4 linked regions of the Homo sapiens genome follow. The protein of the gene in region 2 interacts with the protein of the main gene of each other region in a pairwise test. Each region holds a gene or a part of one and is shown on either strand. Other genes may lie near its edges.

Region 1 (7,479 bases), on a different chromosome or scaffold from region 2:
TCGTTTTCTAATATAAAACTATTCGAATGACTGATTGAAACAGAAAGGGAACCAAAGGGAGGAGGATATAAGATAGGGAACAAGGAAACCATATTTGGGGGAGCTTTAAAAGGTGACATGGTTAAGAGAATGGGGTTTTATGAAAGAAAGGTTCTTAACAAGTAATCATTGTTCGCAAAGCTATAGTTATCAAAACACCCTTTGCTGAGAACTTGCTCTCTGTCCACAGCTGTCCCCGAAGAAGACCTGGGAAGGCTTCATTGGGGGCTTCTTTGCTACTGTGGTGTTTGGCCTTCTGGTAGGTGGTGGCTTTCAGCTGTGTAAGGGATTGGGTGGACAGAGGCCTCATACCACCTTCCAAGGCCTGTCCAGAGCTGGAGAGTGTCTTTGGAGGCCAGGACTGTCCTGCTGAATGGCAACCTTGCCCTGAAGAGGGCCACTGGCCATGCCAGCCATCCACCAGCTTTCAGGCAGGGTGCTAGCAGTTGGAGAGCACCTTCTATGCCCTCTCGCGCCCAGGCATGGTGACATCAGCAGGTAGCCTTCTTGTCAGGCATTTGATGTTCCAAGGTCAGGGTGAGTGCACCCAAGGGAAGATGAGATACACAGCTTTTCTCCTATGTGTGCCTTGCCCAGAGGTGGGTGATTTTCCTGCCCTTTCCAGAGCACCATTCTCTGCTTCTGACCCTTGGGCCAGTCCTCCTTCTTCAGCACTGTCTGGCTGCCCTTCAGTGCTCACCGCCCAGCTTTGTTGCTTTCCAGCCTTGTTCCTCCTGAGATCTGCCTCTCACTGTGCCCCTTCCCCATGGCCTCTCTCCAGTTATCACTGACTTCAGAGATCTTGAGGAAAGTGGTCCTAGCTCCCCAAATGGGGAGAGTCTTCTTGTAGTTCTTTGCCCCAGTCCCTTCAGGTTTTCCCGGATTCTTTCGGGGCCTGGGTGTTTGGGTTCCTGTATGTAACCTTGGTGGGTCATGAGCCTCTTTTTTTTTTTTTAATTGAGGTAAAATATGTATGGTAAAACATGAACCTCTGAGCACATAGCTCGCAGTTAGCAGGGTACTAGGCACCCTCAGGAACATGGCCAAACCAGGTGCCTGTGTCTGGGCTGGATGGTTGGAACTTACTTCCTTGCCGGTCTCTCTGTTATTCCTCCTCAGCTGTCCTATGTGATGTCCGGGTACAGATGCTTTGTCTGCCCTGTGGAGTACAACAATGACACCAACAGCTTCACTGTGGACTGTGAGCCCTCGGACCTGTTTCGCCTGCAGGAGTACAACATTCCTGGGGTGATCCAGTCAGTCATTGGCTGGGTATGTGCCACTCACAGGGGGTGAGCGGCCTCCATGGACAGTGGCTACAAAGAGAGATCCCCCTCCATCACCTGCCCTCTGAAAAAAGCTAGCTTCCTCCTTCCCAAAGCTGTAAGCCCCAGGATGAAGGAGAATTGCTCACGCCAGGTCAGGGTATGGGCAGGACAGCTTTCCCCCAACATCAGATTGTTTAGACCAGTGGTTTTCAAAGTGTGTTCTGTGGATCCCTGGAGGGCCCTGGGATCCTTTTAGTTGCGGGGGTAGGGTGGGGGGGTCTGTGAGGTCACAACTGTTTCATAATTAGACTATGACATTATTTTCCTTTTTCAATGTGTTGACATTTGCTGTGATACGGCGCAAAAGCAGCAGTGGTTAAAACTGCGTTAAGGCAGTGGGTTCCTCATGCCACACACTCACAGTACAAACAGGCCAGTTCTAATGAATGTCTATGAAATAGTAAAGTTACTAATTTTGTTAAATCTTGACCTTTGTACACACACCTTTTTAACACTCTCTACTGAAATGGAAAGTATGTGTAAAACATTTCTGCTAAGTACTGTAGTACAGTGCTTGCCTAAAGGGAAAGCATGTGTGCAGTTGTTTGAGTTGTGAGCTAAATTAGCTGCTTTTTTTTTAGAAAAGAAAGTAAATTTTACTTGGAAAGAACCAACAAATTATAATTTTTCAGACTTGGGTATTTGGCAGACATTTTTCTTGAAAAGGATGAAGTGAGCCTATCACTTTAAAGAAAACAACTGAGGCTAGGCACAGTGGCTCACACCTGAAATCCCAGCACTTTGGAAGGCCGAGGCAGGCAGATCTCTTGAGGTCAGGAGTTCCAGACCAGCCTGGGTAACATGGCGAAACCCCGTCTTTACTAAAAATACAAAAAAATATAGCTGGGGATGGTGGCGTGTGCCTGTAATCCCAGCTACCAGCTACTCAGGAGGTTGAGTTGCTTGAACCCAGGAGGCGGAGGATGCAGTGAGCCAAGATCGCACCACTGCACTCCAGCCTGGGTGACAGAGTGAGACTGTCTCAAAAAAAAAAAAAAAAAGAAAAGAAAAATGACTGACAGTAATTGTTACCAAGGATAAAATTTGGCTTTCAAATGAAAATTAGAATTTTGGAAAGCTTAACCTGCCACTGTGAACTTGACAGCTTCCTAATACTTAAAAGCCTTTTCTGATGAGGTCTGTGATGATTCTTAACGTACGTGTGTGTGTGTGTGTGTGTGTGTGTTGATCACATGAGAAAAAACACAAACATATTTGACACGGTATAATGAAATGTGTCTACATTTGGAAGATTTACATAACTCAGTGAACCATTATTTTCTAAATGGCTGATGCATGGTGTTATATAGTCATGCATGGGTAAAAGATCCGTTCAAGTATAAGATAGACCAATGGATTTTAATGTAAGAGAGAACAAAGTCCATTGATAGAATTCTAGATTCCATATCACACCTAATATTCAAGAAATGACTACTTGTCAAGCTCTGGTGTAGTGTCAGAGAATACCCAAAACCATCTGAGGCTACGACTAAAATACTCTTTTCAACTATGTATCTGCGTACGGCTGGATTTTCTTTATATACTTCCACCAAAACAGCATGTTGCAACAGATTGAATGCAGAATATTTTAATGTTTTCCATTAACTTAGATATTAGAAATTTACAAAATGGGAAAAATTCACTCCTCTTATTGATTTAAAACCTACATGTATATAATTAGTTTCATAAAGAGTTACGAGGTTGGATGTCTTGGTCTGTCTAGTGTTGATAGAACACTTGGGGCTGGGTAATTTACAAAGAAAAGAGGTTTACTTAGCTTCTTTCTGCAGGCTGAGAAGTGTGAGAAGTGTGGCATTGGCTGCTGCCTGGCTTCTGGTGAGGGCTTTTTATGCTGCATTGTAACATGGCGGAGAAGGTCAAAGGTGGAAGCAGACACATGCAAAGAGGCAAAACCAGGGGCTTCATCACTTCATAACAACCCATTCCCTCGGGATGCCAGTGCTAATCTAGTCTCTTGACAGAACTCACTACTAGGAGAAAGGCACCAAGCCATTCATGAGGGATTTGCCCCTGTGACCCAAACACCTCCCACTAGGCATCACCTCCCAGTGAGGCCACAATGAGGATCAAATTTCAACATGAGTTGACAACTCAAACCGTAACACTGGGCATGTATGCACCTAAACTTTTACTTCATTTACTCTTCTCAGAAAACGGTCCGGATGTACCCCTTCCAGATTCACAGCATCGCTCTCTCCACCTTTGCCTCGCTCATTGGCCCCTTTGGAGGATTCTTCGCAAGTGGATTCAAACGAGCCTTTAAAATCAAAGTAGGAAAACCGTCTTACGTTCCTCTCATCTCACTCCCTCACCCATCTTCTGCCTTTCTCCCCCTTCCCTGCCCCCTCCAAAATACTAGGCTGTACACCCTGGCATTTAATGTGTGATCTTGACCCATGCACTGAATTTAGGTGAGTTAATTAATAACAATATTTTCAGGAAAATGCAATCGTTGTTTTTCAGTTTATTTGTTAATATATCTTTCTTCAAAAGAACATTTTGGGCCAGGCAGTGGCTCATGTCTGTAACCCCAGCACTTTAAGAGGCCAAGGCGGGAGGATCACTTGAGGCTAGGAGTTAGAAAGTAGCCTGAGCAACATAGCAAGACTCCTGTCTTTATTAAGTAAATGAAATAAGAACATTTTGTAATGCAATAAAATTGTGTCCTAATATAGCCTCACCATTAGATTTCATACTTCTCACCTTCTATTGCCCTCAGCTACTCAGCACAGAAGCCTGACATTGGGGTGGGACCATTAGGCTGGGATTGGTTAGTGGCTGAGCCCAAGTTCACCCATCCTTCCCCTGCCTCTAACAGGACTTTGCCAATACCATTCCTGGCCATGGAGGCATCATGGATCGCTTTGACTGCCAGTATCTGATGGCCACCTTTGTCAATGTATACATCGCCAGTTTTATCAGGTATAGTACCTTTCCATCTGAACCAAGTTGGTGGATTTTTAAGTACGGTGCAATTCTAGAATTTTAGCGGCATCTAAGTTCCAGTGAAAAGCATCCCAAATAATGCAGTTTTCAGTTGTTTCTGCTTACAGATTTTCTGAGGCCTCCTGTCATCTGTTAATAGATAACTCTCTGATCCAGAGATCAGAGCAGCCACTCAGATAATCAGGCCCTGGAAGCTTCCGGGCCCTAGCTCAGTGCTGTTTCTTCACATTCTGTTCCAGAGGCCCTAACCCAAGCAAACTGATTCAGCAGTTCCTGACTTTACGGCCAGATCAGCAGCTCCACATCTTCAACACGCTGCGGTCTCATCTGATCGACAAAGGGATGCTGACATCCACCACAGAGGACGAGTAGGGGCCACCCAGGGCCAGGAGAACAGGAACAGAACTGAGCAGGGGCAGGTCTCCAAGGCAAGCCCAGCTGGTGTGACTTAGACAATGACGAGGCTTCAACTCACTGTCTTTTTTTTTTTTTTTTGGAGGGTATTTTTTATTTGTGGGTTCAAAAAATCTGTATATACAGTCTATGTGTTTAGAATTTGTGTTGTAAGTAAACTACAGCTTTGAGTTGGAAAGAAGTCACGGGTTGTAAAACCATTTGGATTTTTTTAAAACAAAAGTATTAATAATCTGGAAGACAGTGTTGCCCAGGTCAGGAGTGTTTTCTTGGTGGTTCCAGCCCCCATCAATTGAACTGTTTCTGGGCTCAGTCAGACACAGACATTCATCTGTGTCTGACCAAATCAGGGGACTTCCCCACCTGTGGTGGGAGGCACAGCTTAGATGTTTTGTACACCTGGTCTTTTCTAGAAATCCCTGCTTGGAGCTGCAGAAGGGTTGCCTTCTGTAGGTCGGAGGAATGGAGGCTTACTAACCAGGTAAGCCTTCTATGCATCCACACCAAAATCCTGCAGAATGTAAGTAAGCTCTGCTTTATAAGATGGGTTCACCTTCATCGCAGACTGAAAGTTTCAGTTTTTATTTTTTTCAGAAAGCACGAAAAATTATTTATAATAGTCTGGAGAAAAAACACACTGTAATATTTCAAGTGTATGCAGTAGAATGTACTGTAACTGAGCCCTTTCCCACATGTCTAGGCTCCAATGTCTCCTGTAGGTCCACCTAACTGTGTGTTTTCAGGGACAATGCCATCCATGTTTGTGCTGTAGACTTGCTGCTGCTGAATCCTTTCTGGGGACTTTCTCATCGGGCAGGGAGCAGAGGGCTTCTCGTTCATGCACCCTTTGCCTGAACACCCATGTAGCTGCTGTGTTGTGTATATATTACTCTTAAGAGGAGTGTGTGTGTCTGTGTTTGTTTTAAAAGTCACTTATTTCTTACAGTGATTTCAATTGCACCATGACTTCTTCACTAAAACCACAAAGTCCTGCTTAAAACTATGGAAAACCTAACCTGATTAGAGCCTTGACTATTTTGAAGATTAAATGCACACTTTTTATATAATGTGACCAGTTTAAATGTAGTTTGTATTGTACTGGGGGACCTTTCGTTGTTGTTGTTTGCTTAAACTGTGATTTTTTTTCCCCTCCCTAATTTCAGGGGTGAGATTGACTTTGGGAAGACAGATTAGTTCTTTGTCAGGCCAACAAGTGATGGAGTGCGGGAGAGAGAACTTGGCACCCAAATATATCAAACTATTCCGTGCCGTGGATGTTTTCATTGCCAACGAGGGTGTAATGATTTGCTTCTGCACCTTGGTCTAGTGCTGGTTTGTGGTGTTTTTGTTTGTAAATTAGCCTCACTGCCTCCCTGAAAGTGCACAGTCAGCCCAGGTCTCTAGAGTGTCCAGCAGAGGATGGAGCCCTCGGGATGTTTCAGCTCACACATCCTTGAGTGACTTCCCATATGTGTGTGGGGCTGAAGCGGCTTCTTTCCGCTGAACTTTTATTTCCATTTCAGCCTCGTGGCTTCTCTTATTCAGGTCCAAGGCCCCTTAAAAACAAAACATATTATCGCAAGGGCTTTCATTTCAGTATTGGCTGTGTCACTGGCAGGATGCATCACTCTCCAGGGCCTCTTTTTCGGAGCTACTCCCAATTCCACTCTTCTGTGATTCTGGCTGAGCAAGTTCATGCCGGTAGAGGCTCATTAAGTGAGGTCCTGGGCACCCCCCAAACAGGAAGTGTTTTCAGGCCCTTACATGCTTATCCTTAAGGTGAGTAGGTATCTCAGCAGCACACCCGAACAGTAAAGGTGATCAATAACGAAACTGTAGTTTTCAGATTGAAGAATGAACCTGGATCACCAAACTAGATACCGAAAGGGCTCCTCATTTGTCTCTTTTGTCCCATTGTGGGCATATGGTGGGCTCCTTGAGAGGAGGGAGTCTCAGCTGGGGCCTGGCTGCAGAGACCTGCTCTTGAATAGGGCTGCCTTTGGGATCAGGGAGCCGAGCATACTGGGCAAGGCTCATCATGTTCCTTTGTGGAAGTGGTTACTTGGTGGGGGTGGGGTGGGGAAGGGGGGTCTAGGAAGCCGAAGCTGAGTGCGCACTAGAGCTGCTAGCAGGCAGGCCAGAGGGTCAGCTTGTGTTTTATTTTCTGATTTCTCCTGCATGCTTTCTGGAGATGAGGATTTTTTGTCAGGTAGCTAGGAGAGCACTGCCACCTTGTGTCCATATAGCACAATGTTTCTCTTTCCTATTCACAGACAAGATTCAAGAAACCATTTTTACGTGTGTACATTCAAATCTTCATGAATGGCATCACTTGCTTTAGACCCATTTTTTTTTTATTGGTCAGAAATAAAATGTGACTGCAACTGTGTGCCCTCCCTTGTCGTGAATTCCCTGTTTATCACTTCCATGCATGGTTTTATGCTTCTCATTTGTTTATGTATTCATGAATACTGCATAGTCCTGATTCAGAGACTTTTGCTTTGCTTTCCAACTTGTATCCCTACATTCTCACAACAGCCTTCTTACCTCGGGTGAGAGTCATGAGCACCTTACCAGGCAGGGAGCTTCCCCAGGATAGTGTGGTGGAGTCAGGACTCACTCCATCCTGCACTTTACCCACAGGACACCTGGAGGGTCCCCCAGCCCTGCTTGCTTTTGTGAACGTCGTGTGAGTACACCGAGGTGTTGCAGCTTTCCTTCCCTCTAGCTC
Region 2 (7,659 bases):
GATAAAGAGGTCGGTGGGAAGAGCATAGTCAAGAGGAGATGGTTCATTTGCTTGTGTTACTATTAAAGAAATGGCAAAATAGTCTACTGGTCAAAAGCTGACACTGTAGTAAGTTTTTCTTTAAAACTGTATAAGGACAGAGAATACCAGCCCCAGGAAAGAGGGGCTCCAGGTAGTTTCTGAAGGGGTGAGGGAAGGGTTGCTTCTTCACAGGAGTCAAAGGACAGGATCTCTCAGTCACTTTTCTAAGAAGTGCAAAGAGGGCCAGACAAGGTGGCTCCTGCAGGTAATTCCAGCATTTTGAGAGTCCGTGGTGGGAGGACTGCTTGAGCCCAGGAGTTCAAGACCAGCATAGGCAATGTAGTGAAACCCTATCCCCAAAAAGTAGATTAATTAATTAATTAATTAAAAATTAGCCAGTAGCCAGGTATGGTTGCACACACCTGTGGTTCCAGCTATGCTGGGAGGCTGAGGCAGGAGGATCCCTTCAGCCTGGGAGTTGGAGGCCGCAGTGAGCCCTGATCGTGCCACTGCACTCCAGCATGGTTGTCGGAGTGAGACCCTCTCTCAAAAAAAAAATTAAAGTAGGCTGGGCGCAGTGGCTCACGCCTGTAATCCCAGCACTTTGGGAGGCTGAGGTGGGCAGATCACCTGAGGTCAAAAGTTCAAGACCAGTCTGAACAACATGGAGAAACCCCCTCTCTACTAAAAATACAAAATTAGCCGGCCATGGTGGCACATGCCTGTAATCCCAGGTACTCGGGAAGCTGAGGCAGGAGAACCGCTTGAACCCGGGAGGCGGAGGTTGTGGTGAGCCGAGATCACACCATTGCACTCCAGCCTGGACAACAAGAGCGAAACTCAGTCTCAAAAAAATAAAAAATAAAAAATAAAAAAAATAAAGCAGCAAGTCTAAAATCTGATATGAAAGGGCGCTGCCCAGAAAGGGCAGTGTTACTGACAGCTGCCTCATTTCTCCCTAAGTCTCTGTTCCATTGTCTCGGCCAACCTATGAAAGCACTGACATCAGAATGTCTCATCTCATCTGGCAGGCTGGGAGCAGGAATGACGTCAGACAAGGGCTGGCCAAGAAAGACCAGGGGATCTGGGAACTGCTTCTCTTTCCCAGCCAACGGGAATCTTTCCCAGATGCTAGGGTGCAAGGGCCTTCCTCAACCCCCATCCTCTGCCCCCTCTCCCACAAAACCGCCTATCACACACGGCTTGGTTCATTTTCAGGAAATGAGATCCGACCAGCAAAAGGAGGAAGGCGGGGTGGGGGGATGTGGGGTATACATGCTACCCAAACCCTGCCTCAAAACAAAGCCTCTTGACATAATTAATCCAAGATCTGGCAGGAGTCTACTCTAAAGAATGATTTTTTTCCCCCTGTAACTAGCTCGCTTGCCATACTGAGAGATAAGGCCAGCTGCTTCCCATCTCTCTCTCCCAGAAACTCTCCAAGCATCGGAACAACGCGGTCAAGACTAGGACCCCAGGAGGACTGGAGCGGGTGGGGTGGGGGGCGATTAGTATCCAAGGTTTTGAAGTGTCCCGCTCAGAAACACCTACCTTTCAGGTAGCTCGCTGAGGAATCAGACTCCAGCCTAACCCAGTATCACCTGAACCTCCAAAAAGCCTCAGGTGAAATGAACTAACTTAGAAGCATCACCCAGGCCTGGGGAGAAATGGGGCGAGGGGTTGTCGCGTCTGGAGGTGTGGCCTTCACTTGGGCTCAGGAGCAGACACCCTAATCTGGCCTTGTGGCCAGAAACACGGCTCCCGCCAGGCCAGCCTCGCACCCCAGGGACAGCCGGGCGCGGAGCTCTCTGCGAGGGTTTATCAACTCAGGAAAACGGCTTTTTTTTAGATGGAGTTTCGCTCTTGTTGCCCAGGCTGGAGTGTAATGGCACGATCTAGGCTCACTGCAATCTCCGCCTCCTGGGTTCAAGCGATTCTCCTGCCTCAGCCTCCCAAGTAGCTGGGCTTACAGGCATGCGCCACCACTCCCGGCTAATTTTGTATTTTTAGTAGAGACGGAGTTTCTCCATGTTGGTTAGGCTGGTCTCGAACTCCCGACTTCAGGTGATCCGCCCGCCTCGGCCTCCCAAAGTGCTGGGATTACAGGCGTGAGCCACCGCGCCTGGCCGAAAGCGACTCTTTAATCCAGTCTTCCGCAAGCACCCAAGCCACGCCAGCAGCCCGTGGGAAACCAACAAAGCCAGAGGAAGCTACCCCCGCGCCCAGTCCCGCACGCTGCACGGTATACATATTTACAATAGCCTGCAAAGTTTCAGGCCGGGAACTTGAGCTCCCTCTAGGAGATCCCAGCCCGAGTGCGGATTTAATTCTCCTCCAACAACCACAACAAAGAACAGAGTTTGAGCGCACAAAGGCAGGGGAAGGGGGTAGAAGAGCCGGGCCGCCACACAAAGGCCGGGAACCCCTCGGCTCCCACGCCCCCGGCCCGCCGCCAGTCCGGAGGCCCCTTCCAGGCTCTGGAGTGAAACCTGGATAGTTTCAAATTCCGCGCTGTGCAGAGCAGAGTGGGGCGCCAAGACGCCTTCTCGACTGTCCCATTTCAGGAGAAACTTGGTTCCCGAGGGAGGACCAGCGCGCTGCTGTCCGACCTCGCACCCCGCGCCGCGGCTCCCACCAGCCCCACGTAGGCTCGGCCCTCGCCCCGGGGACTCACCGTTACACCACTGGAATGGGTGCATCAATGAAGTCGCGGTTGGCTTCCTCGGGCGAACGGACGCAGGCGGGGTGCCAGGAGGGCGGGGTGGGAGCACTAGCGGCGTGAGGGGCCGCAGGCGGGGTCGGGGCAGCGCGCTGCAGCCGCCCTGCTGGAGAAGCCGAACTCCCTCCGGAGTGGGGGGCTTTGACGAGGCTGGTGTTCAGCCCAACAAAGAGGGACGAGGAGGAAACAAACAAAGTCCCGCGGAGCACAGCCGCACGGAGCGCACGCGCCAAGGGCCCCGGGCTGGGGGAATGTGGGGCGCCGCGGGGCGGGGGTGCCCGGGCTGCAGAAGCCCTCGGCCGGGGGAGGAGGGAAAAACCTTTGCCGGAGGCTCGGATCGGGTTCAGCGGCGCAGAGGTGAGCTGGCTGGGGTTCCGAAACTGACACCCGGCGGTGCACACCCCCTCCCTTTTACTTCCCCCACCAGTCCCCAGGAAAACTCCGCCCCTTGTTCGTCACCCTCCCTCCGACCAATCGGAGCCTTTCTCCTGCCCCCGGCTATTATTTGCAGGCCCAGCCTCCCTTCCCTGGAAGCCGGGAGGATCTTCGCACGGTGGGCGCCTCCCACTTAGTCTTCCCAGGCCTGGGGAAACTTCGGTCTGCAGAGAATGGAGCGGCGACGAGCGATGCCCCGGAGTGGGGGCCTGCCTTTTGCCCAGGGACACCAAGGCAAAGGAACAATTACTGCCACATTGTTTTCCGCCTACAGATCTGTTATTTATTTACTTATGTATTTGGAGGCAGAGTCTGCCTCTATCGCCAAGGCTGGAGTGCAGCGGCGCGATCTCAGCTCACTGCAACCTCTGCCTCTCGGGTTCAGGTGATTCTCCTGCCTCAGCCTCCTGAGTAGCTGGGATTACAGGCGCTTACCACCATGCCCAGATAATTTTTGTATTTTTAATAGCGACGGGGTTTCGCCATGTTGGACAGGCTGTTCTCGAACTCCTGGCCTCAAGTGATCCTCCTGCTTCAGCCTTCCAAAGTGCTGGGATTATAGGCGTGAGCCACCGCTCCCGGCCCTCTTTTTCTTTTTTGAGTTAGAGTCTTGCTCTGTCACTCAGCTGGAGTGCAGCGGTGCAATAATAGCTTACTGCAGCCTCCAACTTCTGGGCCCAAGCAGTCCTGCCACCTTAGCCTCCCAAGAAACTGGGACCACAGGTGCCTGCCACCAAGCCCAGCTACTTTTTAATTGTTTTGTATAGATGAGTGGCCTCACTATGTTGCTCAGGCTGGTCTCGAACTCCTGGACTCAAGTGATCCTCCCGCCTGAGCCTCCCAGATTGCTGGGATTACAGGCATGAGCCATGGCACCCAGGACATTTCATTTCTTAATTGGATAATTGCAAAAGCTTCCTAACTGGCCATTCTGATTCTAGTCTATAGCTCAGACTTCAGAGCCTACAAGAATCACTCCTATGTTTGAGATGTAACATGCAGATTCCCAGGCCTTGAACCCAGAGATTCTGATTCAATAAAGGGTGGACCCAGAAATTTTCATTTTAATGTGCCTTGTCTTCCCCACCCCTCAAATTCTCATGCGGCTATTGAAAGAAACAGTGCTCTGATTTCACTCTCAAGTCCATCCCTTCTGGTCACAATTATCTCTGTAAAATGTAAATCTGAACATTTCTTTGCTTGATAACGTTTGTTGGTCTCCAGTGTTTACTGAATAAAGTTCTGTAAACTAGAGTGTGGCATTCAAAATGTTTCAGTCTAGACTCACTCCTATAATCTCAAAACTTCGGGAGGCTGAGGCGGGCAGATTGCTTGAGCTCAAGAGTTTGAGACCATCCTGGGCAACATGGTGAAGCCACCTGTAAAAAAAATACAAAAATTAGCTGGGCCTGGTGGTGCGCACCTGCGGTCCCAGCTACTCTGGTGGCTGAGGTGGGAGAATCACTGGAGTTCGAGAAGTCGAGGATGCAGCTGCAGTGAGCTGTGATTGTGCCACTGCACTCCAGCCTGGGCGACAGAATGAGACTACTCTGTTTCAAAAAGAAAAAAGAAAAAACTATTAAAATAAAGTGTTTCAGTCTAGCCTTATTTGTTTCAGTCTTCCTCATACTCAAATACTCCCCTTCACCACACACTATTCATCAGCCATGAAGCTTTTTGTTGTTACTCTTCCTTGAACATAGGCTGTGTATATTCTTTTTTGTTGTTGTTTTTATTTATTTAGAGACAAGGTCTGGTTCTGTTGCCCAGGTTTGAATGCAGTTGCATGATCTTGGCTCACTACAACCTCCACCTCCTGGGTTCAAGCCATCCTCCCACCTCAGCCTCCTGAGTAGCTGGCACTACAGGCACTCACCACTATGCCCGGCTAATTTTTTTTTTTTTTTTTTTTTTGTAGAGACTGGGTTTAGCCACGTTGCCCAGGCTGGTCACAAACTCATGAGCTCAGGCTATCTGCCTGCTTCAGCCTCCCAAGTGCTAGGATTAATGGGGGAGGCTATACATGTGTGGGGCTGGGGGTGTATCAGAACTCTGTACCTTCTTCTCAATTTTGCTGTGAACCTAAAACTACGCTGAAAAATAAAGTCTTTAAAAAAAAAAGTGTGCATAATGGTAACTATTGTTCTTTCTATTCATTGGCTCGGGGGAGAGATGTGATGGGTAATCCTAATTTTATTAAGGCTCTCCTGCTAACTGCCTCCAGCGCCAGACTGTGAAAGAAGGAGAGCCTTTGAAGGGAAAATTGATGGGAAGTGAGGAACACCTCCCGTCCCACTCGCCTTTGGACTAGAGGTTCTTGGAAGGAAAACACCCTTAAAGGTAGGAATGATGGAAATTCTTCTTTTTTTGAAACGGAGTCTTGCTCTGTGTCGCCCAGGCTGGAGTGCAGTGGCTTGATCTCAGCTCACTGCAGCCTTCGCCTCCCAGGTTCAAGTGATTCTCCTGCCTCAGCCTCCTGAGCAGCTAGGATTACAGGTGCAACAATTTATATTTTAAGCCTGATATTTTAAGCATTCAATAAGATCTCCAGAGGCACTTAAGGACTCCAATTTCGAAAAACTGCTGTATCCCTTCACACTCTCCTCCCTTCGTCCCTCCTGGCCAGTGTGGCCACAGGACCTCAACTGATGGCTGACATTGGGAGTTATATGTTGGTAGAAGGGCTTTGGTTCTGGGCATCTTTGAAATGATTGGTTCAGTCCCAGCATTTTCCTGGACTGAAGGGTTCTATGAAAGATAAGCTGATTTCTCACACCATGTCAACCAAATTTAGATCTCTCACTCCTCCACCCTCACCACCAGGTGACTCAGCTCCACATGAGTCAGGAAGACTAGTTTGGTTTATTGAGGAAGAAACTGAAACAGTAAAGAAGATGATGGGCCATATATTCAAAGCTACTTGATAAATATGAGGTAGAAATATGTTTCTAGGATGGGTGTGGTAGCTCACACCTCAGCACTTTGAGAGGTTGAGGTGAAGGAGCTTGAGCCAGGAGTTGGAGACCAGCCTGGACAACATAGCAAGACCCCATCTCTACAAAAAATAAACATCAGCTGGGCATGGCGGCACATGCCTGTAGTCCCAGCTACTCCAGAGGCTGAGGTGTTCAAGGCTGCAGTGAGCTATGATTGTGCCACTAGACACTAGCCTGAGCAACAGAGCAAGACAAAAGAAAAGAAAAGAAAGAAATATGTTTTAAAATCTTCCATGGAAAGGGAAAAAATAATACTAAACTTCCGGAAAAACTTTTTTTTAAAATTAATTAATTTTTTTATACAGGGTCTTGCTCTGTCACCCAGTGGTGCAGTGGTGACATCTCGGCTCACTGCAACTTCCACCTCCCAGGCTCAAGCGATCCTCCCACCTCAGCCTCCCGACCAGCTGGGACTACAGGCGCATACTACCATGCCTGGCTAATTTTCTGGGGTTTCGCCATGTTGCCCAGGCTGGTCTCAAACTCTTGAACTCAGGCAATCCCTCAGCCTTGGCCTCCCAAAGTGCTGGGATTACAGGCAGGAGCCACCGTGCCTGGCCTAGGAAAGCTTCTGAGGAGTCAAGGGATTCTTTTTATTCCCACTGCCTGACTCCAGCTTCCTCTTAGACACTCCGTGAGCCCCCTCATTTTAAGGCCTTGTGAACATTAGAGAAACACTCTGGAGAGAAGCAGTCAATTCTGTGGAGGTGCATGGGGGAAAAGGCCTGAATCACCTCCTTTCATCTTTAGTAAGACACCCTCTTTCATGGGCCTCCAAGTGTGACCCGATAATGTAGCAGAGAATGGTAACCATGGATGGTTGTAAAAAATGATAAATGGCTGGGGGCCATGGCTCATGCCTGTAATCCCAGCACTTTGGGAGGCCAAGGTAGGCAGATCACTTGAGCTCAGGAGTTCAAGACCAGCCTGGGTAACATGGCAAAACCCCATCTCTACAAAAAGTACAAAAATTAGCTGGGCATAGTGGAGTGCACTTGTAGTCCCAGCTATTCAGGAAGCTGAGGCAGGAGGATGGCTTGAGCCTGGGAGGCAGAGGTTGCAGTGAGCTGAGATTGTGCCACTGCACTCCAGCCTGGGTGACAGGGTGAGACCCAGTTCCCTGCCCTCCCACCAAAAAAACGATAAATAACCCCAAGTAAACATGTCATGTTTCAGAATTAGACAAATTGTGACAATATTTTCCCAAACTTTTAAATTTTGTATAAGAAGCATTTTCAGGCCAGGCACGGTGGCTCACGCCTGTAATCCCAGCACTTTGGGAGGCCGAGGCAGGCGGATCACGAGGTCAGGAGATCGAGACCATCCTGGCTAACACAGTGAAATGCTGTCTCTACTAAAAATACAAAAAATTAGTTGGGCGTGGTGGCGGGCGCCTGTAGTCCCAGCCACTTGGGAGGCTGAGGCAGGAGAATGGCGTGAAGCCAGGAGGCGGAGCTTGCAGTGAGCCGAGATCGCGCCACTGCACTC
Region 3 (5,555 bases), on a different chromosome or scaffold from region 2:
ATAAAAATAAAAAATAACAAAAGGGTACAGAGGGTACCTAGAAATGCTTTTACCTTATTGTTCAGAGAACGTTGTTCTGTGGTGTTGGAAAAATAAGCTCAGGAGTACTCAGCTGCTTTCCTCTGCTGTCTCTACCAGCTCTGAGCAGGCAGCATGGCCAGCCACCTTGATTATATGACCTCCAAGCTTCACAGACTTTCAAGGTAGATGATATTGTTGAAATCTTTGATTCAGTAAGCTCACCTAACCTGCCCAAAGCAAGGGTGACTAAGTTATTGTCAAACTGAGTCACTTGTGAGAATAAAAGGCCGTGCTATTCTATTTATGCCAGCACAAACAGCATAAACCAGGACTGTTCCAGACCCAGCAAGCAGGAAGTATAGGCAGCCTTCCTCCGGTCAAAGAGTTCGCAGGTGGTGCTGAACGACTCCAGAACGTGAACTGCCCTACAGCAGGCATCTTCTACAGTCAAGCTGAGGTCTCCTGGAGGTTACAAGCACCTGTAAAAGTGATTTGCCAACATCTTGTCCAAATAATTTCTCTCATCTTTATTTTTATTAAAAAAAATAAAACAGTCACCACCAACCACATGACAACTCGCCAGGCAAGGCCTTGCTTCCCTCCCTCCTTTGCGTCCCATGTGCCTAGTCAGCAAGGTCGGGGAGGCACCGATGTTAGCTTCGCCCAAAGGGAGTATTACAGAGAGAGGCTTGGGAAAGGGAAGGAAACCTGGACAGGCTTTTCAGCACTGAGAAATCACTTAAAACTGATTTGCTTTCAGTAACTGGTATGTCTGAAATGCAGGGAGGGAAGACCATGCTGTCAGCAATCAACCCACTTTTTACAGGTTGGCTCCAGGGAGAGGTTGGTTGAAACGGTGTTTAAAGGAAGGAGAGTGGTTTCACCAGCTTGCTCAGCTCTCCTGGAACAAAGACTAAGGTGCTACGTGTTGCTTGTTAGGCTTATACTACGGCGGGTCTGGGGCTGCAGGTCTGGAGTCCTTGTTAGTGCATTTAGTGCTGGTGAGAAGGGTGGGCCCCAGTCTTGGACGCTGAAGTCCTCTAAAGACAAGGCAGAGACACAGCCTCAGATCCCCCGTCATCTTCCACTGAATAAGGGGGATGGAGAAGAGGTCTCAGCAGTTGGCCTCCTGCAAGCCGAGATGCCTGCCAGCCTGGGCCTGCTTCCTTAGCGCTGTGAGAGCTTATGTCTGACGGGCAGAGAGGAGCAAATGCAGTCCCTGTTGGGCTGACTCCACGCAGGGCTCCCCAGCTTCAGGCTTGCAGGGTGACCCTGCTCTGTGACCCAGCGGCGGCTTCAGCCCCAGAGGGGGCCGTGGCACAGGTGGTTTAGGCATAGCCGCCAGCCATCTGACTGGTGGCCGCATTGCTGCCTACTCCTCGCCAGGCCTGGTAGCTGAAGAAGGCACTCACTCCATAGGCGATCATCACCAAACACGCAAAGAACTGAAAGAGAGGTGAGAAGGGCTTAAGGACCGAGAGGGTGACAGTGACACAAGCTCCAACCAGATCTCAGGCCAGGCAGGAGGGGTTGTGGCAGCCGCACCATCTCACACTTAGCCAGATGCATTTCACAGCTGTTTATCATGGGGCTGATGAGCACCAGGGTCCTGGGATACCAACATTACCTTCTAACCATGGGAAACAGCTAAGAACCACAGGCAGGGCCTGTCAGATTGTGATAAGGGCAATGAAGGAGAAGATAAGAGTGACAGAGGGGACACCTAGCAAGGATTTAGTTCTAAAAAGACAACATTCAAAGGACACCCTAGGAATCTCCTAGAACCAGTTCAAGCCTCTATACTAACACCTGCAGCCACATTCAGAAGCTCCCCGTCTCTGTCCCCATCACTGAATTTGCTGATTTCAAAACTGCCCTCATCAGGAAGAGTAAGGAACCAAATGCGTGCCCATTGAGGCCCTGCCCTCCCCTGGGCTTGGCCGTGGCTCCAGGCCTGGCGTCCAACTTCTCTGAGCAGGAGCCTCCTGTCTGTCAAAAGGAACTGGTAGTCCCTTCCTCTCCCTCACTGTGGGTGTCGCAGGATCCTGGGAGGAGATGGTGTGCAGGGCCTGGTGGTGTGAAGGGTGACAGGCGTGGAGGGGACTACTGCCACTTCACTGGCCACCTGACGTGGGCCCAGAGTTTGGGTTTCATGGGAGAGCCTATGAATCTCCCAGAATGGTTTAAACCAAAAGGTTTTTGCACGTGCACTTGTCAGTGGGAGAGCATGTTTTTCACATTCTCCAAGGGGGCACGTGACCCTAAGGCAGTGTGGCACAGCTGATTTACAACAAGGTTCAATAGTCAGCCCAGGCCGCGTGTGGCAGCTCACACCTGTAATCTCAGCACTTTAACAGGCCAAGGCGAGTGGATCACCTGAGGTCAGGAGTTCAAAAGACCAGCCTGGCCAACATGGTGAAACTCCGTCTCTACTAAAAATACAAAAATTAGCCAGGCGTGAGACTCCATCTCCAAAAAAAATACAAAATACAAAAAAATTAGCGGGTGTGGCAGCACACACCTCTAGTCCCAGCTACTTGGGAGGCTGAGTCAGGAGAATCACTTAAACCCAAGAGGCAGAGGTTGCAGTGAGCTGAGATCACGTCACCGCACTCCAGCCTGGGCAACAGAGCAAGATTCCATCTCAAAAAAAAGAAAAAATAGTTAACCCAAAACTTCCATTGCCCACCACACACCACTCTCCACTGTTAATTATGGAAGCCTGGAGGCGGCCCGGCTCCCCTCTAAGACCCACTGAGTGTTCAGGTGACAACCCCTCAGGAGGTGGCAGGTGCCTGGCCTCAGACCAAGCGAGCAGCCTGAGTCCTGGGGCTGAGACCCTGCAGACCACCAAGGGAGCCTGGGAAGCAGACTCACCGAGGCAGCCGCGCGCTGGTTATAAGGCCGGGTGCCCCTCAGGGATGTCAGGTCAACTGCCGCAGAGCAGGCGATGAAGGCGGTGATGTAGAGAACGGTGGCGCTGATGTTAAAGATCATTAACTGCAGGACATGGGGGTAGGGAGTGGGGAGAGAAAAGGCTTAAGACACAAAGAGAGGCCAGACACGGTGGTTCACACCTGTAATCCCAGCACTTTGCGGGGCTGAAGTGGAAGGATCGCTTGAGCCCAGGAGTTAGAGACCAGCCTGGGGAACATAGGTAGGCCCCATCTCTACAAAAATAAAAAAGTTAGCCAGGCATGGTGGCGCATGCCTGTGATCTCAGCTACTTGGGAGGCTGAGATGGGAAGATCACCTGGAGCCGGGAGGTTGAGGCTGCAGTGAGTCATGATCACACCACTGCACTCCAGCCTGGGTGACACAGTGAGATCCTGTCTCAAAAAAAAAAAAAAAAAAAAAAAAAAAGACAAGACCAACGGTTGGGGCTTCTTGGTTCCCACTGGCACACTCCTTGAATAGCCATTGGATGGTGATGCAAACACCTGGGTCTTTCCCACCAACAGGGCCTCAAGAGGCCACAGTTTCCAGGGAGTCAGCCCATGAGGCCCTGGTCCCCAGGAGGCCTGCTGAGCAGGGAGCATGAACACACCTGAGGCTGGAGGAGGGGAATGACAGGAGGGCCTCAGTGATGGGGTAGTGGCAGTGCCAGACCCATTCCTCACAGAAAGAGCCCAATCCATGACCCATCTCTTTGTACCAGCTAAAGAAACACAGGCTACTCCTCCAAGTGTGGTCCAGGGCCAAGCCCAGGCCATCCCTGGTACCACTGCAAGGTTTGGCTCTGTGGCCAGTCCTGGGCTGGGCCTCACATCCCTCTCTGCCTTCAGGGGGAAGAATTTTTGTCTCCCTCTTGGCCACATCCTAAGCTCAAGGCTCTAAGCAAATGCCAGGGTCAGGACCAAGAGGACCAGATATTTCAAGCTGGATATGGAACCAGACTGGCAGGAAGGGGCCCTCTGCTGACAACCAGGGACCAGTCCCTCATCCCAAACGCTTGGCCCCAGGAGCCCATTCACCGTCTTCAAACGCCTGGTCCTCAAACATTCATTCAGTTCGTCCAATATACTTTTAAAAAATTACCAACATTATAAAATTAGATTTCATGAAAACCTGAAGACTTCATGTAAAAATTTTATATTAAAAAAATCTTGGCCGGGTGCAGTGTGGCTCATGCCTGTAATCCCAGCACTTTGGGATGCCGAGGCAGGCAGATCACTTGAGGTCAGAAGTTAGAGACCAGCCTGGCCAACATGGTGAAACCTCGTCTCCAATAAAAATACAAAAATTAGCCAAGAGTGATGGTGCCCACCGGTAATCCCAGCTACACAGGAGGCTGAGGCGGAAGAATCACTTGAACCTGGGAGGCAGGGGTTGCAATGAGCTAAGATCGTGCCACTGCACTCCAGCCTGGGCAACAGAGCGGGACTTTGTCTAAAAAAAAAAAAAAAAAAACTTAGGATATCAAAAGATTTCGCTCCAAAGGGGCTGCATTCCCACTAGGAACAGATGAAGTGAGTATAGAGGCAGCTTGCGATGGGCAGATGGATGCTGGCTTCTCCAGGGTCCCTCCTGACCCAATTTACTCACATATCTTGCCTGGATCCTGTAGGGGTCTGTAGCCCCCATGCCAGAAAATCCCAAATTGGCCATGCTAATCCAGCCTTCTCTAGATGCAGTTAAGCCCTCTCTGCCCCATTCGTTGAGGGTCCAGAAGCACAAGAAGCAATGTCCTGCCACTGTGGCAGAAGGGAGCCTCCTTCCATTAACAGCCACGGCTGGAGCCCCAAATCTGCACCTAAGAGACACACAGGCTTTTATCTCTGGAGATTTCTCTCTTAGAGGTCCCTGGGACGTGAGGGAGGGGGTGGACCCTGAGCCCGGAAGTCAAGGCACCGCCTCCTCGCCCCAAAATCTTCCCTGCAAGCCCAGCGACCCCTGCAAACGCTGCCTGTTTCTGCCAGGGATGTCGAGATCTAACAAACCCATTCTGTCTTGAGGATGACTCACGTTTCCTCGGTTTAAAAAGTCATTGAATTCCAAACAATGCCGCCTAGTCCCAGCCTTGCTTGTCTTACAATCATGTGCCTTTCTCGCCTCTCTTCTCACTGAAAGCCTCAGACCCCAGCTGCAGGGGTTTTCCGGGTCAGAGGAAAAAAAAAACCAGCAGCTTTCTGTGTGTCTGGCCGGGGTACTTCCCATGTCCGCTCTCAGCCCTGTGTCCTGGGGAGACTGTCCTGGGGCAAACCTGGGGAGCCCAGCCTCTCCCAGGCCTCAGGGCCTCACCTGCAGGCAGCCAGGTGCCCGAGCTTGTCCTGCACACTTGAGGCCCTGGCCTGGGCAACTTCTGACAGCTTGCCACAGCCTCCAGCCACAGGGCTGCCTACCTGGGCCAAGCTACAATCTCACAAACTCACACAACACAGGCACAAATTCTGACCACCCCCAGAGGGAAATTTTTTTTTTGAGGTGGAGTCTTGCTCTGTCACCCAGGCTGGAGTATAATGGTGTGATCTCGGCTCACTGCAATCTCCGCCTCCTGGGTTCAAGCAATTCTCCTGTCTCAGCCTCCCAAGTAG
Region 4 (8,056 bases), on a different chromosome or scaffold from region 2:
CCTGCCTCAGCCTCCCGAGTAGCTGGGATTATAGGTGTGCGCCACCACACCCAGCTAATTTTTGTACTTTTAGTAGAGATGGGGTTTCACCATGTTGGCCAGGATGGTCTCGATCTCCTGACCTCGTGATCCGCCCACCTCGGCCTCCCAAAGTGCTGGGATTACAGGGGTGAGCCACCGTGCCCGGCCCTGCCCTTCTATTTTACATCTCAAAAATATCTCAAGTTTTATTCCAAGCTGCCCTCTCCTGCTCCCTCCTCAGGACCATCCTGAGATCCTCCCTATAAAAGGGTGTTGCTGGGCGCGGTGGATCACGCCTGCAATCCCAGTACTTTGGGAGACCAAGGCAGGCAGATTGCTTGAGCTCAGGGGTTGGAGATCAGCCTGGGCAATATGATGAAACCCTGTCTCTACCAAAAATACAAAAATTAGCCGGGCGTGGTACCACACGCCTGCGGTACCAGCTACTTGGGAGGCTGAGGTGGGAGGATTGTTTGAACCTGGGAGGCGGAGGTTGCAATGAGCTGAGATTACACCACGGCATTCCACTCTGGGTGACAGAATGAGACTCCGTCTCAAATAAAGAAGAAGGGTGTTGTGGGTGACAGAGTGAGACTCTGTCTCAAAAAAAGAAAGAGTGTTTTCTCCCTCCACCTGTCCCACCACCCAGCCTAGAAGGAAGACTGTCTACCAGCCTGTGGATCATCTCTATCCTCCAGGAGGTGTGGAGGGGCTGGCCCAGGAGGACATTACATATGTCAGGACCCACAGTCAGGTAGGGCCAGGTGTTCATTGACCTACCAGCCACATGCAAACAAGAGGTCGTATGTGTCTGCCCTTTTCCCCTTCTCCTCTATACCATTTTAATTCTAAGCACTGTATAGACATCACCCATTTAATCCCTTAAGAATTCACCCAGATAGCTATTATTATTATTATCCCCAATTTACCAATGAGGAAATTGAGATTTAGGTAGTTAAAGTAATCTACCAAATCACACAGCTAGTGATGGGAAAAGCCCAGTTTCTAATCTAGTCTGCTCAATTTCAGAGTCCTGTGTCTAAGCATGCACAGCTCACCTGGGTCGTGAGCACAAGATGATAACTAAGAATGCAAAGCCTCTCTCCAGTTGCAGGGTCTTTTTTTTTTTTTTTTTTTTTTTTGAGACAGAATTTCACTCTGTCACCCAGGCTGCGCAATCTTGGCTCACTGCAACCTCTGCCTGCCAAGTTCAAGCGATTCTCCTGCCTCAGCCTCCTGAGTACCTGGGACTGCAGGTGCGTGCCACCACACCCGGCTAATTTTTTATTTTTAGTAGAGATGGGGCTTCACCATGTTGGCCAGGCTGGTCTCGAACTCCTGACCTCAAGTGATCCACCTGCCTCGGCCTCCCAAAGTGCTGGGATTATAGGCATGAGCCACTGTGCCTGGCACAGGGTCTTCTTTCAGGGTGGAGTAACTTTGTACCACTGTTAGTCAGTCTCCCTGGGTTGGGAAGGACAGGAAAGGACTGTACCCACTGCTGAGACACAGGGAGTCTGTCCAACTATGACATCATCATTGTTACATGGTGAGGTGGGGACAGACCTTGGAATAGGACCTGTGTCCGTAATGCTGATCCTGAGCCCTTCTCCGGCCAGGCAAGTCCCCCTTGTCATGCAGCATCATTCACGAAGGAACAGCAGCTTCACAGGGAGACCACAGTCACTCCATTACACTCCATGCAGCCAAAATTTGAAAGACTGTTTGCTTATTTTGTCTTACAGAGAGAGAGAGGGTGGCCTTGCTGTGTCTTGCATAAATGCACACATCAGTATGTTTCTGCAGTGTTTTAAGTTGTCTCTCTATGCTCTACATATCCTTTGACACCCATGGACTTATCGTAGACGCTACCAGAAGTAAGGGCATAGTGGTATACTTTAGAACTGTGAAACAGGCCAGCTGGAAGGACCATCTGGTCTACCCGCCCTGGTTGGGAGATAAAGAAATTGGAGAGGTAATGCAACCTGCCCAGTGACGCCCAGTATGTCAGTGGCAGAGCTAAGACTAGAGCCCCCCATTAGTTCCAGTGCCCAGAACCAGGTATCCCTTTCAGAGAGGATCTAGGAAGTTGCTGATGGAAATGACAACGATAACAATGAGAATCCCAGCAGGGAGGGAAGAACGGAGCGGTCTTTTGCTTCTGGTGCTTGTATTCTCATGGAGTGGATGCTGACTTGATCCAGAGGGGTGTGAAGGAAATTGGGCTCTCCCTTCAGGCACTCCTTCAGGAGGCAGGAGACGGAGGAGCAGCGAAGGAAGCTGTGGGAGCAGGGCAGCGGCAGGGGGTACAGAGGAAAGAAGAGGAGTCACAACAAAGGACAGAGGTATCTTGGGTGGGACAGGGGAGAAGGGCTGAGGAAGGGAGAGGGCAGCTTAGGGTCTGGAGAAAGTGGCAAAGGCCTGCCTTGAGGTTGCTCCCGAAGCAGAAGATCAGGCTGGGGCTGGAACCCAGGGGCCCCACACACCCGCCTGTCCCCCTGGCCTGCCTACTTCTCTTGAGAGCAACCAGAAACCAATACCGTATTTGTCTCCTTCTCCAAGGTAAAGGAGGAGCAAGTCAGAGCTCCAAGACTCAGGTTTTGCACACCCACAAATTCCATTTCCAAAGACCTGATGGAGACTTTGAGTCCCTTCCCTGGATTGCAGCCTCCCAGCAGAGCTCAAACAGAACACACACTCACCTCCATGAAGGGCACGGCACGACAAGAAACGTCACCCAGTAGCCTCTGCTTGGTGATCTCGTTGAAGATGACAATAGGGAGGCAGAAAAAGAGGACCAGAAAATCCCAGAGGGCCAGGCTGGCAAGGATGGAGTTCCAGGCACTCTTCAGGTAGTAGCTGTGCCACACGATGCACATGACCGACAGGTTGCCCACAATGCCCACCGCAAACACCACCAGCGCCAGAAGCATGATGGCATAGGCACTGTAGGAGCTCTCGGTCACCGGATACAGGGGGTTCTGGATCTGTAGCCTCTGCCCTGGTGCTCCTGTCAGATTGCCCCTCAGTTCCTGCCCACTGTCTGGGGTGCCCCCATCCTTGCCGGGGTTAGGGCTGGTGGCCACCAAGGGCTTGGTTGGCTGCAGGCCAGCAGGGTGAATGGGCCGGGGGTACTCCGCCCACTCCTCAGGCACATACTGCTGCACGCCCTTGGCCTCCTCATCCTCGGTGCCCCTCTTGGATCGGCTCTGCTGCTCCTGGGTCTCGGCTCTGTGCCTGCCCAGGTGCAGGGGGGCACCCCCAGAGACCCTGCTTAGCCCCACAGCCAAAATCACAGCAAGAGAGACAGCCAGGGGCCACAGCCACCGCATGGCTGGATGAGCAGGAGACAGCCAGCCCAGGAAGAGCAGGTGAGTGCAGGGGGCCCAAGAGCTGGGCTCCAGAGAGGCAGCTGGCCGGCTGGATCCGCCTCCAGTCAGGCGTCTGGCATCACTCGCCTGCCCTCCCTCCCAGCCTCCGGCCACAGGCCGGGCAGGGCCCTCTGCTGGACACATAGCACTCTTTGCTGCCCTCACACATCTCGTCCTCCACGACGCCGCTTCTCAGGCCCTACAGCATGTCAGGCTGTGGGGCCCTAAGAGGGCATCTGCTTCAGGCCCCTGAAACTAGGGAGGAAATGTGGCCTGCCTAGGGTGACACAGGGAGGTGGGGCAGAATGGGAACTGGGGCGCAGGTCTCCTGATTCTAAGGCAGCTCCTCCATTCAAAACTCAGCAATAACCATCACTGTCACTTACTGAACACTTACTAGGTGCTAGCACTCAGCTGGTTTCTCAATTAACCCTTGATTAATCTCAGATCACAAATCTGAGGTTTGTAGAGGTCAGTCACTTGCCACATAGTTGATACAAGGCAGAGCAAGGCCCACAACCCAGATCTGACTCCAGAGATTTCTAATTTTTTTTTTTTTTTCGGTTGCCCAGGCTGGAGTGCAATGGCGCGGTCTTGGCTCACTGCAGCCTCCGCCTCCTGGGTTCAAGTGATTCTCCTGCCTCAGCCCCCTGAGTAACTGGGATTACAGTTACTGTAGTGCCCGCCACCATACCCGGCTAATTTTTGTATTTTTAGTAGAGACAGGGTTTCACCGTGTTGACCAGGCTGGTCTCAAACTCCTAACCTCAGGTGATCCGCCTGCCTCAGCCTCCCAAAGTGCTGGGAGCCACCGCACCCGGCCTAAAACACCATATTCTGAGCCAGACACAAGATGTGTGGACATTTGCAATAACACGTCTTTACTGACTACGTGTTGTGTTCCAGACACTCAGAATACAAAAATGTAAAGGATCTCTGCCACCAATGAGCTTTCAGTCCAGAGAAGGAAGTAAATGTGTAAGTTCAGCATGATAGATGCTATGAAAGGCAAAGGTCATGATGCTGAGGGAACCCAAGAAAATCTGGGGGGGATCTGGAAGGCCTCCCAAGCGAGGTGACATTTGAATGGATCCCGAGAAATGGCTGTGAGCTTGCCTGACAGACTACGGGAAGGGAGGGTGCTCTAGGCAGAAGACACAGCACACACAAAGGCTGGGTGATGTGGAAGTGGGTGATGTTCCCGCAAGAGAGCAAGTCTGTCGAGGGGACTAGAGTGCAAGGGAGGTGGGGAGAGAGCATGGGCACTTGGGACAAAGAGCTTGGAAATATCAGCAGAGGAGGAACTGGACTGTAAAGGACTTTGTATGCCAAGCCAAGGAGTTTAGATTTTATCCCATAAGCAATGGAGAATATCACAGGTTGTTAAGTAGGCAAACAATGACTCAACTAAGTTATTTTAGAGGGGTCCCTGATGGGCAGCTGGGGTCCTAGCAATCTGGAACAGGAGGATGCAGAGACCGGGGGTTCTGTTGGGAGGCAGTGGGTGATGGAGAGAAGCCCAGAGTCAAGGAAAACCAGCAGCTTTGAGCGGCTTTGGCTGTGCATGGGAGGGAGAGGTCGAGGCAGAGCCCAAGCATGGGGTGGGTAGTGAATCCACTCAGCCACATTAGGGAGGCACAGTTCTGAGGACGGACCACACGATGCCTAGGAGAATCCACTGGAGAATTAACTCGAAGACCTGCCCCAGAGTGAGTCAGATCATTCCCTCCTCCCAACTCCCACGGCATTATGCTGCTGTCATTGAAACCTACCACCTTCACCAGCCCAGACAACATGGTGAAACCCCATCTCTACTAAAAATACAAAAATTGGACAGATGTGGCAGTGCACACCTGTAATCCCAGCTACTCGGGAGGCTAGGGCATCAGAATCACTTGAACCCAGGAGGCAGAGGTTGCAGTGATCCGAGATCATGCCACTGCACTCCAGCCTGGGCAACAGAGCAAGACTCTGTCTCAAAAAAAAAAAAAAAAAAAAAAAGGGCCAGACGCAGTGGCTCATGTGTGTAATCCCAGCACTTTGGGAGGCTGAGGTGGGCAGATCACAAGGTCAGGAGTTCAAGACCAGCCTGACCAACATGGTGAAACCCCCGTCTCTACTAAAAATACAAAAAAAAAAAAATTAGCCACGCGTGGTGGCAGGCACCTGTAATCCCAGCTATTTAGAAGGCTGAGGCAGGAGAATCACTTGAACCCGGAAGGCGGAGGTTGCAGTGAGCTGAGATTGCGGCCAATGTACTCCAGCCTGGGCGACAGAGCAAGATTCCATCAAAAAAGAAAGAGAAAAGGAAAGGAAGTTGGGGGAGGGGAGGGGAGGGGAGAGGAGAGGAGATGAGAGGTGTGCTATTTGGGGATTTGGGTAACTAGAATCATCCATCATCTGCAGCATCACCACTCACCAAGTGCCACACTCTGTGCTAAATGCTTGCTATAATTGTCACTTAATCTTTATATTATTACCCTAGACTCTGAAAGGTAAGGCAACTTTCCTAAGAACACACAGCTAGTGAATGACAGCTGGGATCCAAATGTAGGTTTGTCCAACTCCAAAGCTAAAACTCTTTTTTTTTTGAGACAGGGTCTGGCTCTGTTGCCCTGGCTGGAGTGCAGTGGCATGATCTTGGCTCACGGCAACCTCAGCCTCCCAGGCTCAAACAATCTTCCCACCTCAGCCTCCAGAGTAGCTGGGACCACAGATGTGCACCACCACACCTGACTAATTTTTGTATTTTTAGTAGAGACAGGCTTTTTGCCATGTTGCCCAGGCTGATCTCAAACTCCTGAGCTCGAGTGATTTACCCGCCTCAGCCTCCCAAAGTTCTGGGAATACAGGTGTGAGCCACCTCACCCAGCCCAAAGCTGAAACTCTTAACCACTCCTTTGTGTGACTTCACAGAATTCTAACATAGGAAGAGATGCTAGAGATAATCTACACCAACCTTCTTATTTTTCAGGAGTGGAAACGGAAGTCCAGAGAAGCCAAGTGACCAGGCCAGGCACTTGGCAGTCCTGTCTCTGCTGTGGGATCCTCAGTGCTCCACAGGCACGTGCCAATACAGTATGGACCCAAGCCCAGGGCTGGTACGTGTGAGCAGAATAAATGTTAGTTCTCTGCTCTTTAAAAAAAAAAAAATTCAGAGACAGAGTCCTGCTCTATTGCCCAGGCTAGAGCACAGTGACATGATCATACTCACTGCAGACTTGAACTCCTGGGATCAAGCAATCCTTCCACCTCAGCCTCCAGAGTAGCTAGGACTACAGGTGCACACACCCTGCCTGACCTTCTGCTTCTTATTTTATTTTATTTTATTTTATTTTATTTTATTTTATTTTATTTCAGAGACAGGGTCTCGCTCTGTCACCCAGATTGGAGTGCAGTGGCAGGATCTAGGCTCACTGCAGCCTCAACTCCTCCTGGGCTCAACTGATCCTCCCACCTCAGCCTCCCAAGTAGCTGGGCCCACAGGCACATGCCACCATGCCCAGCCTTTTGTGTTTTTTTTGGTAGACATAGGGTCTGCCTGTATCACCTAGGCTGGTCTAGACCTCCTGAGCTCAAGCAATCCACCCACCTCAGCCTCCCAAAATGGTGGGATTACAGGCGTGAGCTACCGTGCCCAGCCTCTTTATGCTCATGGATATGCCTCCATCAAACCTCACATTTGGCCTCACACAGAGTAGGTGCTCAATAAACACTGAATGCCTGAAAGGGCACCCCCTTGTGCCGGTCTCTGTGAGAACGGTTGGAACATCAGAGGCCACTAGGTGGAACCAAATGTCCAGTGATGGTAGTTAAGGGCCTGGCCTCAGCCCTTCACCCCATCGGATCTTAACCCATCCCACTCTGCCCAGGTCCTGCCCACAGACCTTCTGTGGCTGTCTGAGAAGGCCATCTGAAAAGAGATGATAGGGGACAGGGTGGGTTCCCAGGGGCTGAGACTAAAGGGATGGGGGATGTGCCTACTCTTCCCCTCCACCCCCCTGGAGGGTGCCCAGCATGGGTCCCCCAAAAGTACTTTTCTCCTACCTGTAGTTCTACTTTAGGAAGATTCCTCTCTCTGGACAAGCTGGAGCCATCTCCCCTATTCAGAAGCATGCCAGGCAGAGATGGAAGGCTTTCCTAGCCCTTGGGAGTGTCTCTCCATGATCCCAGGAATTCCCCATTCCTCTCCCTGGGAGTTTCCCCAGTGCTGGCTACAGAAAAGGTACTTAGCTGGGGCCGGGCGCGGTGGCTCACGCCTGTAATCCCAGCACTTTGGGAGGTGGAGGTGGGCGGATCACGAGGTCAGGAGTTCAAGACCAGCCTGACCAACATGGTGAAACCCCGTCTCTACTAAAAATACAAAAATTAGCTGGGTGTGGTGGTACACGCCTGTAATCCCAGCTACTCAGGAGGCTGAGGCAGAAGAATCGCTTGAGCCTGGGAGGCAGAGGTTGCAGAGAGCCGAGATTGTGCCACTGCACTCCAGCCTGGGCTACAGAGCGAGATTCCGTCTCAAAAAAAAGAAAAGAAAAGGTACTTAGTTGGAACCGGGTGGGAGGGAAGCACTGAGGTGGCACTGAGGGCATCTGAGCTGGTGTGGAAGTGCCACCCATGAAAAAAATGAGCGAATGTTGTACTGAGCAGATTCCATGTGCCATGCA

What was found.
Region 1: the proteins of RNF122 (region 2) and CDS2 interact in binary tests that used the Homo sapiens proteins (3 or more experiments, as listed by UniProt).
Region 3: the proteins of RNF122 (region 2) and PLLP interact in binary tests that used the Homo sapiens proteins (3 or more experiments, as listed by UniProt).
Region 4: the proteins of RNF122 (region 2) and GPR37L1 interact in binary tests that used the Homo sapiens proteins (3 or more experiments, as listed by UniProt).

Annotation. Positions count from the first base shown.
Region 1 is NC_000020.11:5,185,529-5,193,007, forward strand, and holds part of CDS2 (phosphatidate cytidylyltransferase 2), read left to right. Parts: intron 1-229; coding exon 230-298; intron 299-1,158; coding exon 1,159-1,311; coding exon of another isoform or gene 1,312-1,331; intron 1,332-3,538; coding exon 3,539-3,658; intron 3,659-4,206; coding exon 4,207-4,310; intron 4,311-4,573; coding exon 4,574-4,706; 3' UTR 4,707-7,479. UniProt on the Homo sapiens protein: Catalyzes the conversion of phosphatidic acid (PA) to CDP-diacylglycerol (CDP-DAG), an essential intermediate in the synthesis of phosphatidylglycerol, cardiolipin and phosphatidylinositol.
Region 2 is NC_000008.11:33,564,004-33,571,662, forward strand, and holds the start of RNF122 (RING finger protein 122), read right to left. Parts: upstream 3,126-7,659; 5' UTR 2,721-3,125; coding exon 2,696-2,720; intron 1,903-2,695; exon of another isoform or gene 1,573-1,902; intron 1-1,572. UniProt on the Homo sapiens protein: May induce necrosis and apoptosis. May play a role in cell viability.
Region 3 is NC_000016.10:57,255,564-57,261,118, forward strand, and holds the end of PLLP (plasmolipin), read right to left. Parts: intron 3,022-5,555; coding exon 2,899-3,021; intron 1,467-2,898; coding exon 1,350-1,466; 3' UTR 534-1,349; downstream 1-533. UniProt on the Homo sapiens protein: Main component of the myelin sheath that plays an important role in myelin membrane biogenesis and myelination. Plays an essential function in apical endocytosis. Regulates epithelial development through the regulation of apical endocytosis.
Region 4 is NC_000001.11:202,118,261-202,126,316, reverse strand, and holds the start of GPR37L1 (G-protein coupled receptor 37-like 1 precursor), read right to left. Parts: upstream 3,401-8,056; 5' UTR 3,354-3,400; coding exon 2,724-3,353; exon of another isoform or gene 2,584-2,723; intron 2,367-2,583; exon of another isoform or gene 2,259-2,366; intron 776-2,258; exon of another isoform or gene 599-775; intron 1-598. UniProt on the Homo sapiens protein: G-protein coupled receptor. Has been shown to bind the neuroprotective and glioprotective factor prosaposin (PSAP), leading to endocytosis followed by an ERK phosphorylation cascade. However, other studies have shown that prosaposin does not increase activity.